Linked DNA regions of Homo sapiens: all the other regions are reported to be linked to region 1. The links are microRNA targets in miRTarBase. Many come from high-throughput screens and were not tested one by one. Region 1 holds a microRNA gene; each other region holds the end of a gene's coding sequence.
What was found. The annotated mature microRNA hsa-miR-373-5p reads ACUCAAAAUGGGGGCGCUUUCC and lies in region 1 at 2,066-2,087, opposite strand. An mRNA with a match to its seed (bases 2 to 7 or 8) in the 3' UTR can be bound and repressed. Matches are read on the target gene's strand: a 7mer-m8 pairs with bases 2 to 8, a 7mer-A1 pairs with bases 2 to 7 and ends in A, and an 8mer does both.

Region 2: miRTarBase lists SCYL3 as a target of hsa-miR-373-5p. The part of its 3' UTR that is shown has no 7-base or 8-base seed match.
Region 3: the mRNA of TMEM184C is a reported target of hsa-miR-373-5p. Seed matches in the 3' UTR shown: 8mer at 762-769.
Region 4: the mRNA of LPP is a reported target of hsa-miR-373-5p. The part of its 3' UTR that is shown has no 7-base or 8-base seed match.

What each region holds. Positions count from the first base shown.
Region 1 is chr19:53,787,314-53,790,796 of GRCh38, reverse strand. MIR373 (microRNA 373) reads right to left here and starts at 2,092; the gene lies at 2,024-2,092. It overlaps MIR371A (microRNA 371a), which reads right to left and starts at 3,122; the gene lies at 3,056-3,122. It overlaps MIR371B (microRNA 371b), which reads left to right and starts at 3,055; the gene lies at 3,055-3,120. It overlaps MIR372 (microRNA 372), which reads right to left and starts at 2,907; the gene lies at 2,841-2,907. It also overlaps LOC124904767.
Region 2 is chr1:169,851,016-169,854,015 of GRCh38, reverse strand. It overlaps SCYL3 (SCY1 like pseudokinase 3), which reads left to right. Exons shown (of 13, transcript NM_020423.7): 13 at 244-3,000. The coding sequence ends at 303. FIRRM (FIGNL1 interacting regulator of recombination and mitosis) reads right to left here. Exons shown (of 25, transcript NM_001320047.2): 24 at 2,080-2,199; 25 at 1-1,226. The coding sequence ends at 1,029. Among named protein-coding and RNA genes, the nearest start is that of SCYL3, 41 kb to the left of the region's middle.
Region 3 is chr4:147,633,976-147,636,975 of GRCh38, forward strand. It overlaps TMEM184C (transmembrane protein 184C), which reads left to right. Exons shown (of 10, transcript NM_018241.3): 10 at 194-2,746. The coding sequence ends at 459. Among named protein-coding and RNA genes, the nearest start is that of TMEM184C, 18 kb to the left of the region's middle.
Region 4 is chr3:188,874,245-188,877,244 of GRCh38, forward strand. It overlaps LPP (LIM domain containing preferred translocation partner in lipoma), which reads left to right. Exons shown (of 12, transcript NM_001375462.1): 12 at 107-3,000. The coding sequence ends at 235. Among named protein-coding and RNA genes, the nearest start is that of TPRG1-AS1, 72 kb to the right of the region's middle.

The DNA of each region.
Region 1 (3,483 bases):
TAAAAATCCAAAAAAAATTAGCTGGGCATGGTGGTGGGTGCCTATAATACCAGCTACTCGGGAGGCTGAGGCAAAAGAATCGCTTGAACCTGGGAGGTGGAAGTTGCAGTGAGCCAAGATCATGCCATTGTACTCCAGTCTGGCGACAGAGCGAGACTCCATCTCTTTAAAAAAAAAAAAAAACAAAAAAAAAAACACAAAAACAAAAAACCCTCAACTAACAATCCCCAAGCTGCCCGTAGAAAAGATGACAGGAGGCCCAGGTAGGTCAAATATAAAGAGAAGTCTTACTGGTTACCGTGGCGGACTCCCCACCAGTGGTGGCGGTATTGGGACAGAGGCTACAACTGCTTTATGAATTGCGGGTACAAATAGCAAAACAAAACTCCCTTGAATTTGAGATCTTACTTCAGTTCAGATACTGTGGAGTGGGCAAAGCAGCCGCAAGGGTTTGGAACACCTACAGGGGATAGGAAAACTTACAGGGGATAGTGGCCAGCAGACCCGGAAACCAGTGATAGGGCAAACAGCAACTAAGAACCTACTGAAGGCCCCACGTGGTGGCTCACGCCTATAATCCCAGCACTTTGGGAGGCCGAGGTGGGTGGATCACCTGGGGTCAGGAGTTCCAGAGCAGCCTGGCCAACGTGGAGAAATCCCATCTCTAAAAAATGCAAAAAATTAGCCAGGCGTGGTGGCTTATGCCTGTAATCCCAGCTACTTGGGAGGCGGGGGCAGGAGAATCGCTTAAGCTGGCAGAGGTTGCAGTGAACCAAGATTGCGCCATTGCGCTCCAACCTGAGCGAGAGCACGAGACCATCTGAAGCAAAAAAACCTTCCAAATATGAACTTAGGCCTGGCACTGTGGCTCACACCCATCATCCCAGGGAGGCCACCCAGGGCAAGACAGTAAAGCCCCATCTCTACTAAAGGAGGGATGTTTGATTCCCCCTAAGTTTCAGACCAAGCTGGCCAATGTATGAGACCCCAATTTCTACTAAACATTAGTGGAGCATGGCGGGGACACTCCTGTGGTGCCAGCTACTAAGGGTGGGGTGAGGGGGGGCTTATATGGGAAGATCTTTTGATCTAGGGAGCTCAGGCCTGCAGGGAGCTGTGATGGTGCCACCACACTTCAGCCTGGGTGGTTTTTATTTTTTGAGACAGTTATCGCTGTCACCCAGGCTGGAGTGCAGTGGCACAACCTCGGCTGGCTGCAAGCTCCACCTCCCGGGTTCATGCCCTTTCTGCCTCAGCCTGTGACTACAGGCACCCACCGCCATGCCCGGCTAATGTTTTTGTATTTTTTAGTAGAGATGTGGTTTCACCGTGTGAGCCAGGATGGTCTTGATCTGACCTCATGATCAGCCTGCGTCGGCCTCGGCAGTGCTGCCACTGTGCCCGGCCTTACTTTTTAAACTTGTTTGAAGTTTAAAGAGCAGAACTCTCAAAGAGCATAACTCTAAGTTCTAGCAGGGGTAGAAGGGAAGCACAAAATACTGACAAGTATTTTTAGGCAATGTACTTGGGTCATAGAAGAAGGTTCAGTAACGCCAGACATGAGGCTCATGCCTGTAATCCCAGCACTTGTGGGTGGCAGAGGAACCCAATAGACCAGAAACACATGATGTTGTTCACATTTTATTAAAAAAAAAAGTTAGGAAAAGTGAGACTGTGGCATTGTCCGTGTAGCAGGGTGGAAGCACTCCAGCCCATGCTCTGGCCAAACCCACTTCAAGCCTTACATGCATGCTGCCTACCAAATTCAGGAACAGGACCCCAAATTCCCTTTAAGGCCAACCAGATTCCCCCGACACCCCATCAAGCTTTTCCTGCCCTGTTCATCTGCAGGTGAACCCCGTATCCTGCCCACCCCAGAATATGCCAATTTTTATTATCTAAAATGGAGCATACAGACTGGTGCCCCGCAGAGAAGCCCGGGAACTCCAGGTCATAGCTGAAGCTGCAGTCAGACCCGCAGGCTCCCTTGAAGCAGGATGGTTCGTGATGCCCTACTCAAACAGGGACACCCCAAAATCGAAGCACTTCCCAGTACAGACAAAAAGGAAAGCGCCCCCATTTTGAGTATCCCAGTATGAGCTCCTCGCGAGGATCTGCCATCACTGTGACTTTCTTGCCTACAAGAGGTTGGCCTCCAATCATCCAAGCACATGTTAAATGTCAGCAATAAACTTGCTTGCTATGGGGGAAGAGGAAAGTTACATATCAATTATAACACCAACAGCAAAAAGCATTCCTTTCTTTGTGCATACAGCCCCTTGGTCACAGCTGCTGTTTTTTTTTTTTTTTTTCTTTGAGAATGAGTCTTGCTCTGTCGCCCAGGCTGGAGTGCGGTGGCGCGATCTCGGCTCACTGCAAACTCCGCCTCCCGGGTTCACGCCATTCTCCTGCCTCAGCCTCCCAAGTAGCTGGGACTACAGGCGCCCGCCACCACGCCCGGCTCATTTTTTGTATTTTTAGTAGAGACGGGGTTTCACCGTGTTAGCCAGGATGGTCTCGATCTCCTGACCTCGTGATCCGCCTGCCTCGGCCTCCCAACGTGCTGGGATTACAGGTGTGAGCCGCCGCGCCCGGCGCAGGCGCACAGCCGCCCTCTGAACCTTCTCTTCCTTTCACCATCTAACCCAGATTCCCTTAGTTGTGTCAGGTGAGAGCCCAGGAGGCCCCCTTCCCTTCCCCAGGTTTTCCGGAGCCATTACAGCCAGACGCTGTAAGGGACCTGTACCCAAGACAGTTTCCGGCTGGGAATCGAAACCACAGGCTCTTTAGTTCCTGCAGAAGACCGAGCTCCACGGCATCCGTTGATATGGGCGTCACCGGTGACGCTCAAATGTCGCAGCACTTTCCACTTGGACATCAGAATAGTGCTCCACATTTGAGGCCCACAGGGTGAGCAGCTCCATCTGCAAGAGCCCCGGCCAAGAAATTTATATCACGAGGAAACGGCCATAGGCAGGGTCTAGGGCCATCCTGCTACCCGCCCCCTCACCCAATCAAAATGGTATCTTCTCCGCAGGTTGAGTCTTCTCAAGCGGTAACACTCAAAAGATGGCGGCACTTTCACCAGAGAGCAGAAAGTGCCCCCACAGTTTGAGTGCCACAGGCTGAGGGGATGCGGCAAGGCGGCGATCGCAAGTGGAAGCACTTACCCATCAGAAGAGGCTTTTAAGCAAGGAGGTGGAGAGTAGCCCTTGATGAGCTGTTGAAGGTCTACAAAGCACGAATTTAACGACCCTTTCTTAAAAAGTAAAAAACAAGGCTTTCCACGTATAGATATTCAAAGCACTCCCCCGCCCATAGCCTCCAGATGCAAGCCATGAGGACTGAGTACAATGCAAGTAGGAAGGAACACGTGTGAGGGACAGTGGGGCCTTCGTCCTTAAGACTGAAAAAAAATCACAGAAATAGAACAAAAGTACAGCCCGGCTGGGCGGAGTGGCTCAAGCCTGTAGTCCCAGCTAC
Region 2 (3,000 bases), not on the chromosome of region 1:
TTGGTGTCATCCACACTGATTTTTACTGGATTTTATGGTTTTTGAAAAGCTATTTTCCAGTGCCATGGTTTTGTAATCCTACTTTTCAACTTTCTGTTAGAGCTCTAAGTTATTTTACTTAGTACGAGGTAGTGTTTCTGGCATCAAAAGATAAATTTTAAATTCCTGCTTTTTCAAATTTGCGTATGATTTTTGCATATGATTTGTTTCAGTGGGTTCTTGGTGTGCTTTATTTTGTTGCAGGGAGAGGCTGAAGGCTGGGAAGAAGAAGGGGAGCTGAACTGGGAAGATAATAACTGGTGACAATAGATGTGAGTTAAACTTTAGGAAAAAGGATTCCCTTTTTTTAAAAAAAATCAATACCTCAAAAGCAGGCTTTGGGACAAGAAAACCCCAAAGTGGCCTGCTTTTCCCATCCCAGGAGCTCATTATCCAGTCTGTGCCAACTGAAGTAGGAGACTGACTGTGAGTGCTGGCTAAAAGCCCTGGGTGGTGAGGCTCACAGTACTGGTTTCCAGGAGGAAGAGCCTTTGTGCATTTGACTGAGGCCAGTTTCTATGAAGAGCAAGTAGCTGAGGAGAGGTCGAATTTACTGCTTTTTCCAGGACAATTCTGGAAGTAAAGAAAATGTAATTCAAGCTGGTTAGCTTAATTTTGTGCCATTCTTTAACATAAGAGTAAGCTCTATTATGAAATACAACTTTAAAAAATTTTAGCTATAAATTATATAAATGATTTTAAATTGCTGAGGTTTCCTTAGGCAGCTTATTTATTTGTTTACAGTTAGACTATCTGAGTAAATGGTTCTTTGTGGACCTAGGCAGTTCCTGACTGTTCCACATGTAGTACATTGTACCAAAGTTCTTAATAAGAATATTCCCCACAATCCTGTTCTCTAAATGTCAAATAAAGATTATTTTCACTAGATTCAACTTTACAAAATTTGTTTTATATCTGTTAGAAAATGTACAGACATAAGTATTTTCAGTTGACAAAGCATCAAACCCAGTTCTGCCTAGTGATAAGTTTCACCCTAGAGTATGTATGTAACGTTTTAGCTTATCCATCCTTTCTTGGAGCGCCTCCATTTCCATTGAAAGCCAGGCTGGAGCAGGACCCTTTTGGAGTAGTGACTCAGTTGCTTCCAAAGCCCCTGCTATTGTATGCAGCGCTGACCTGTACTCTTCTTCCCAGGGGAACTCCTGACGAGCTCTTTTTGCATAAGGCTGGAAAAAAAACATAAGTAATATCACAATATCCATTCTAAATATAAAGAACCTTCCTTTTGGACTGGAGTAAAGCTTACATGCAAATTTTATTCTAGTCATTGGATCACAAGGGTAGGAGGATGCACCCCAAAACCCCTACACAGTCATCTAGAAAAATATGTAAAGGCATTTTGGTTTATCATAGCAATTCAGAGTGCTACTACCAGTGTCTTAGTTTGTATGTGGTATACAACAAGTATCCTGTCCCAAAGGGCTCCCAATGAGAAGTGCTGCATAGTCCAAGCTTACATGTCTTATAAACAAGTTCATAAATGTATTTTCTTTTTATGAGAGTTTGACTAAAACTTATCAGAATGTTGTTCTTCATGAATTACTACTATACTAATTACTATACTAATAGTGCTCAAAACAATATTTTGAATATCCTTATTGGTGTCAAATTCTGCCTTTTAATAAGTAGATGTGATCTTCAGTTACTGCCAAAAATTATTAGGAGACTCATTTGATTAATAAGGCAAGGAATCAAACTAAACATTTAGGAGTAAGTTTCTTTCATTTTCTTCTGTGGTTCAGTAAAGACTGCATTTATAGCATCACTGGTACAATATGTAACTTCCCTTAAAGGTTACTACCAATAATTCAAACATACTGAAAGAATATATTTGATATGGTGTAGTCCCACTTCTTAATTTTAAAAGCAACTACCATAAAACAGAATTTTACATGTCTAGATCTATTTGATTTGAAATTCAGCATAAGGCTGGAAACCACACTGGTTTGTTTCGTCAGTAAGTAAAAAGGGCAGAATTTGCCTTGTTAAAGTTTGGCCCCTATTGAAATCAGCCCATACCTGTAAAGATGACCTCTTTGCTTCTTCTACAGTCACATTAGCAAAGGGTTCCCAGAAAATACCTTTTTCCTGTTTCACACGTTCCACTTTGGCAGCTTCAGTTTCATCTACAAACCCAGTCTGCCAGGGACCATGAAAAACCAAGCAAATAGCAACATGTTAGCACTCTACTAGATATGAAATGGCCACATAATTTAAGTGCTGAGTGTTCAACCATACTAGGCAAATTCTGGAAGTCACATGGACTGATCTATAAATACTCTTAGTATAATCTGGATTAAATCACTCTACTGTGTTCTTCCTTACAAAATAGTTAGTTATAGAGTTGTCTTTGCAGGAAAAAATGATAGTCTGCTAACCTTTACTGTATAAGCTAAGAAACTGGCAACAGCAGTGTATACACATGTACTTAAAATCCAGCTTAGATGTAATATAAGTAGGCCAAGTGTGGTGGCTCATGCCTCTAATCCCAGGACTTTGGTGGGAGGAATGCTTGAGCCCAGGAGTTTGAGGTTATAGCGAGCTATGATCACACCACCACACTCCAATCTGGGCGACAGAGCGAGACTCTGTCTAAAAAATAAAGTTCAGTGAGTCAAGTGGGCCCATTTCACCTAAAAAAATATATATGTAATATATGTAAAATATATAACGTGCATCATTACATGTAATATATCAAATAATTCAGTTTCTCCTGGTAGTCTAAATTTGTGGTTTAACAGTTCCACTAGTATTTCAATTAACTATTATTTCCTCACACTAAGTTCCCAAGTATGCATAGACATAGGAACCTTGTGATTCAAAATTTTGGTTTTAATTGTAAAAACAGGTCTTGGCTGCAAAGAGAATAAAAAAGCCATGCCAAAAAAAAAAAAAAAAAAAAAAAAAAAAGGGCCCTGAGCTTACCCTGGCTTGGGAGGC
Region 3 (3,000 bases), not on the chromosome of region 1:
AGGATATTGAATTTCTCCTACTAGGGCAATTTATTATCTATTTAGAGATGAAAAAAGACTTTAAAGCAGTACCACAGTGCAGGCTCATCAACTTTGGGGAGTGGGAGAGGGGGAAGTGGGGAGCTTATTTTTAGAATGGTAAGTTTATAATGGTAAAAATAACTTTTGACTAACAGAAAACTTTATATTAAAGGACGGACAGTCAGGGGACATCCCAGGAAAAAATTGTTTCCCGAGGATCAAGATCAAAATGAACATACAAGTTTATTATCATCATCATCACAAGATGCAATTTCCATTGCTTCTTCTATGCCACCTTCACCCATGGGTCACTACCAAGGGTTTGGACACACTGTGACTCCCCAGACTACACCTACCACAGCTAAGATATCTGATGAAATCCTTAGTGATACTATAGGAGAGAAAAAAGAACCTTCAGATAAATCCGTGGATTCCTGAACAGTATGGAAAAGCAAACTGTGCAACTACTACATTATATCATTACCTGGTATCCCATGGATTTTGTGCTTGGGACAGACCATAAATGATGGAAAATGTCAACACAAAAATAGCTGAAAGCCAGGTACAACTACTGCATTTATATATGTAAGTTTTGTATATCAAAAATAATTGGTCTAAATTTCCTAGACTTAGACTTGATTTCTTAACATTAGGGTATCGCATACTCAAATGGTAGACAATGACCCCAACTAAATCTTCCTGATGTTACACTGCTTTATCAAGAGGATGGACTTTTTTTTTTTTGAGACAGACAGAGTCTTGCTCTGTCACCCAGGCTGGAGTGCAGTGGCGCAATCTCGGGTCACTGCAAGCTCTGCCTCCCAAGTTCATGCCATTCTCCTGCCTCAGCCTCCCAAGTAGCTGGGACTACAGGCACCTGCCACCATGCCCAGCTAATTTTTTTTTTTTCAGTAGAGACAGGGTCTCACCATGTTAGCCAGGATGGTCTTGATCTGACCTCGTGATCCGCCGACCTCGGCCTCCCAAAGTGCTGGAATTACAGGCGTGAGCCACTGCGCCTGGCCAAGAATGGACATTTTTTAAAAAAACATCAGTACTTCCTACCACTGCTGCATGAGTATAATGCTCCGGAATTATCAGAAAGCATAATGCAGAAATACGAATTAGTGGAACTTAATCATGTGCCATATAAGCTTACCTAACAAACAGTTATATCCCTATTCCTCAACTGAATGTCTTTCAATAAATAAGAATTTATCATTTATTTTCTGCAACTTTTTTATGTCTCATTCTTTAAACATTAAAAACCCTTAATATTTTAACAAAAATTTCTTGATTAGAGGCACAGTGAAAAAGAAGTCAAAAAAAAAAGTTCTACTTTTCATCAGTGCTATTAAAGGTGGCAGCAAATGTAAATCTTGGCTGAATGGTCTTAATTACTCATTAAACCACAGTCAGAAAGACATATAGGTGCTATTTGGGAAAACTTTTTATTACCTAGGATGGGGTTTCTCTAATTGCTAATCACAACCCCACTGGGTCATGTTTGACATTTTATAATGAAAATAAAACAGAAAGTGCCATAGTATGTTACAGAAAGCAAAGATGAGTATTGTTTCTCAAAGCCTTTGCTTTATGTATTTATACACATACTCATTCATATCTATCTATATATATAGAGAGAGATAGTGGTTCACAGTAATCATACAAAGTCTTTATTCCATCCACTATTATAAACATTTCTATTAAAACTAAAACTGGGCTCTATGTAAAAACCCCAAAGATACACACACAAAAAAAATCTGTTTGTTAGAACTCAAGTGAATTCAGTAAAGTTGCAGAATACAAAATCAACATACAAAAAGCATTAGCATTTTTATACATAAATAATGAAAATAATGACCTAACTGAAAAATTAAGATGCCATTTATGATAGCATAAAAAAAATACTTACTTAGGAATAAATTTAACACCAAGGCAGTAAAAGATCTGTATGTACACTGAAAACTATGAAACACTGATGAAAGAAAGACACAAATAAATGGAAAGGTATCCCGTGCTCATGGATCAGAATAATACTGTTAAAATGGTCACACTACCCAAAGCAATTCAGAATCAATGCAATCCTATCAAAATTCCAATGGCATTATTTACACAAACAGAAAAAAATCCTAAAATTCATATGTAACGATAAAAGACCCTGAATAGGCAAAAGAATACTGAGGAAAAAATGTTGGAGACATCACATTTCCTAATTATAAATTATACTACAAAACTATAGTAATCAAGACAGTATGGTACTGGTATAAAAACACATACACAGGCCAGTGGGACAGAAGAAAGAGTCCAGATATAAATCCAAACATACACAGTCAACTAATTTTTGACAAAGACACCAAGAAGACACATCGGGGAAAGAACAGTCTTCATTAAGTGTTCTTAATGAAGATGCTGGGAAAACTGCACTTCCACATGCAAAACAATGAAATCAGACCCTTATCTTAGACCTACACAACAATCAATTCAAAATGGATAAAAGACCTAAATGTAAGACCAGAAACTATAGAAGAGAACATAGGAGAAAAGTTCCTGGACACTGACCCTTGGCAATGATTTTTTGGATATCACACCAAAAGCTCAGTCAACAAAAACAAAAACAAATGTGACTACATCAAACCAAAAAGCTTCTGACAGTAAAAGAAACAGTCAACAAAATGAAACAGTAGCCTACAGATTGAGTAAAAAATATTTGTAAGGCATATATATGGAAAAGGGTTAGTATCCAAAATTTATAAAGAATTCATACAACTCAATTTTAAAAATGGGCAAGACCTGAAAAGACATTTCTCCGAAGACGACACACAGATGGCCAACAGGTATATAAAAGGGTGCTCAACATAATTAATCATCAAGGAAATGCATATAAAAACCACTCGAAGTACTACCTCTCACCAGTTAGGCTAGCTGTTATCAAAAAAAACAAAAGACAACAAATGTTGTGATGGTGTGGAATAAAAG
Region 4 (3,000 bases), not on the chromosome of region 1:
TGGCCACATTATGGAGGCCTTGAATAGAAAGCTCAATCATGATGTTCTCCACATGTGTACTTAACGTTTTTACTTATGTCGTTTCCATCTGTCTTTACTGTTCTAGGATTGCGGTGGTCTCCTGTCTGAAGGAGATAACCAAGGCTGCTACCCCTTGGATGGGCACATCCTCTGCAAGACCTGCAACTCTGCCCGCATCAGGGTGTTGACCGCCAAGGCGAGCACTGACCTTTAGATTCAGTCACCTGTTCAGCCGGCACTGAGAAGAACGAACACAAGAAAAAGATAAGAAATACTAGAGTAAAGGCCATCAAACTACGCGATAGTCTCTGTTCTTCATCTGCTATTAACCTTGCCTTAGAAACACATAAATTATGAGATTTTTTTTAAAAGTTGTTACCAAATACACATTTCACATTGAATCATGTAGGATCTTGATGGGCCTTTGTTCCCAAGGACTTCCACATTTTTGCACAGATTATGCTCCATCCCATTCACTTCTGCATTCCTGTAACTTTTAATCCCTATGTTTGTCTCACTTTTCATCTGGTTGAATGGCTTTTCTTAGTGTGGTATTTGCTGTCACATAGTTTTTCCTGGGTGAGTCTGCCAACTCACAGGTGCTTTTAGGCTTGAAATCTCCATCCTATCATTTCCGTTTTGCCTGTGACTGTAAAGAGTAGCCATTCTTTTCCCATGTATTGAAGAGGATATTCTTCTCTTGCTTTATACTACTCACGTCCTTGGGGAGGGAAATGCACAATTTTTTTTTGTTAGGCTGTAAAGAATTTAAGCTGTAAATTACATAAGTTAGAACAAGCCCAAATTTAATTTGCAACCATCAGAATTCAGAATCTATAGTGACCAGTGATCAAGGCTAATTGGAAAAGAGTTATCGGCCCATAGCTAATAAGTAGTGACAGACAACCAAGCTTCAATATTTTTCTAAAGAAATTACAGGTGGGATATGCTAGAAAAGGCATTTTGGGGTTATGTTTAAAAAAACATTATTGTCCCACAATATTACCTTAAGATTTTTCTTTTCCGCACTACCTGAACATTGTAATACAGACAAACTTGATTTCTTCTAGAAGATAACATTTTCAATACTGTCCCACTTCTCATCTTAAAAATATTGTCATGTTTATTCTAATATCCAACACAACTATCAAAATTGCCTTTTTCTCTAGAGGATGAAGGCTGTGAAAAAACCGTTCAAATTCTCTTCTTTTTCTTTTTTATTACCAGGTCCATTTTGCCTGACAATTGCAAATCAGAGCATACAAAATAAAACTGTGCAGTTTTGTTTGGTTTACTTTCAAAAGAGTAGAAAGCTTGAAAAGATTCTGAAACCACAGTTTCATTATTCTCATAATCCTTCTGCAACTGAAATTACATATTGCAGGAGACATTTTCATATCATCAATGTGACATTTACACCACACTTTCAAAGACAATCACTGAAACAAAAATTGTCTTTATGAGCTAAAAATATGCAGAATCTCTGCCTAGAATCTTTATTCAAACTTTTATTAGCCAGTGAAACACTTGCTTGCCAACTGCCAAGCCATACTTATTAAGTTCGAACATGTTTCACTTAAGGAGAGACACCTAGCTTAGTCATGGCAAGTTGCCATTTTGTAAACTAAGGATTTTGGACTGAGATTTCTTAAATCTTTCTTCAAATCTCCCACAAGTATATACTTTTAAATTATGGAGTATTTTAAGTCTACAAAAAGGTATAAATAATAATATAATGAATTCCTATATACCTAATACCCAGTTTAAGACACCAAATATAACAAGTATAATTACATCCTCCAATGTACCGTTTCCTTATTCCACAGATATCTTTTTCATTATTGTGAAGTGATGTTCAGATTTCTAGTTTTTTTTCTAGTTTTTAATTTTAACATCAGAACTGAAATAAAAAATTATGGATACGTGTTTTGAATTGCAAACTATTCCTCAGGAATTCCAATTAAATTTATTTTACTTGAATAGGAATGATCATAAAAGTGATTCTTTTTTTGTGACTAGAAATTCTTAAGCCGATGGTCACTATAGCTCATCCTTAATGTATGGCTCATTTGCTTTTGTCACTAAACGGTTTTGTGTTAGAACCACCAAAATTATAGCTTTTAAGAGCTTCCTTTGACCACTGTCTTTTTCTTACCCTAGTTCTCTTATCTTTGATCGTATATTTCTCATAATGTGAAATATGATGAGATTCACTTAGGGGCAGCATGTTAGTTTTGGGAGGCAATGTCAACTGTGTCTCTGAATTCCTGTCTTCCAAATTGAAGCCAGACCATGCTGATGACCTCAAGTAGCACTGACTATTTGACAATAGGGCTGATAATGTAATCGGCTTGAATTTTGACTTAGTAACTTTTTATGTAATACTTTCGGAGAAATTCTCTTTAGGACAAAGCAGAGAGTCCAATTTATTGAGGGATAGATTGTATCTCTTAAAGTGGTCATATTATTATTAATTTTGCCAAAAGAAGAAGAATTTATTGAATATTTATACTATAAAATGCAGTAACATTCTACTTGCTTATTACATTTAAATCCTTGTGTAACTGAATGTTTACATGTCAAGAGGAAAAGCTGTAAGAAAATGCTGTCACAGACCCATCCCTGTGGCATCGTCAGCAGAATACTGCTTGCTTACAATCTTTATTATGCATTCTTATAACATAACCTCAGAGTATCTTTACCAAAGGTTTTTAAAGTAAATCTCTTTTTAAGATAGACTTATTCTTTTATAATAATGAATGTGCACTCATACATATGTAGAAACATTTAGATTTAGAGTTTTTTTTTTCTTTCACAAGGTATAATAAGGAAAGGATCCTACAATATTTTATTCTAGGGTTTCTTAAATATATGATTTATATTACTGTCTTTTCTATTAATCATTTGATTTAAACAATGCCAAGTCACTCTTTTTTAGTTGCATGAAATTTTGCCTGCAACAGAGAGAAAAAGATTGTA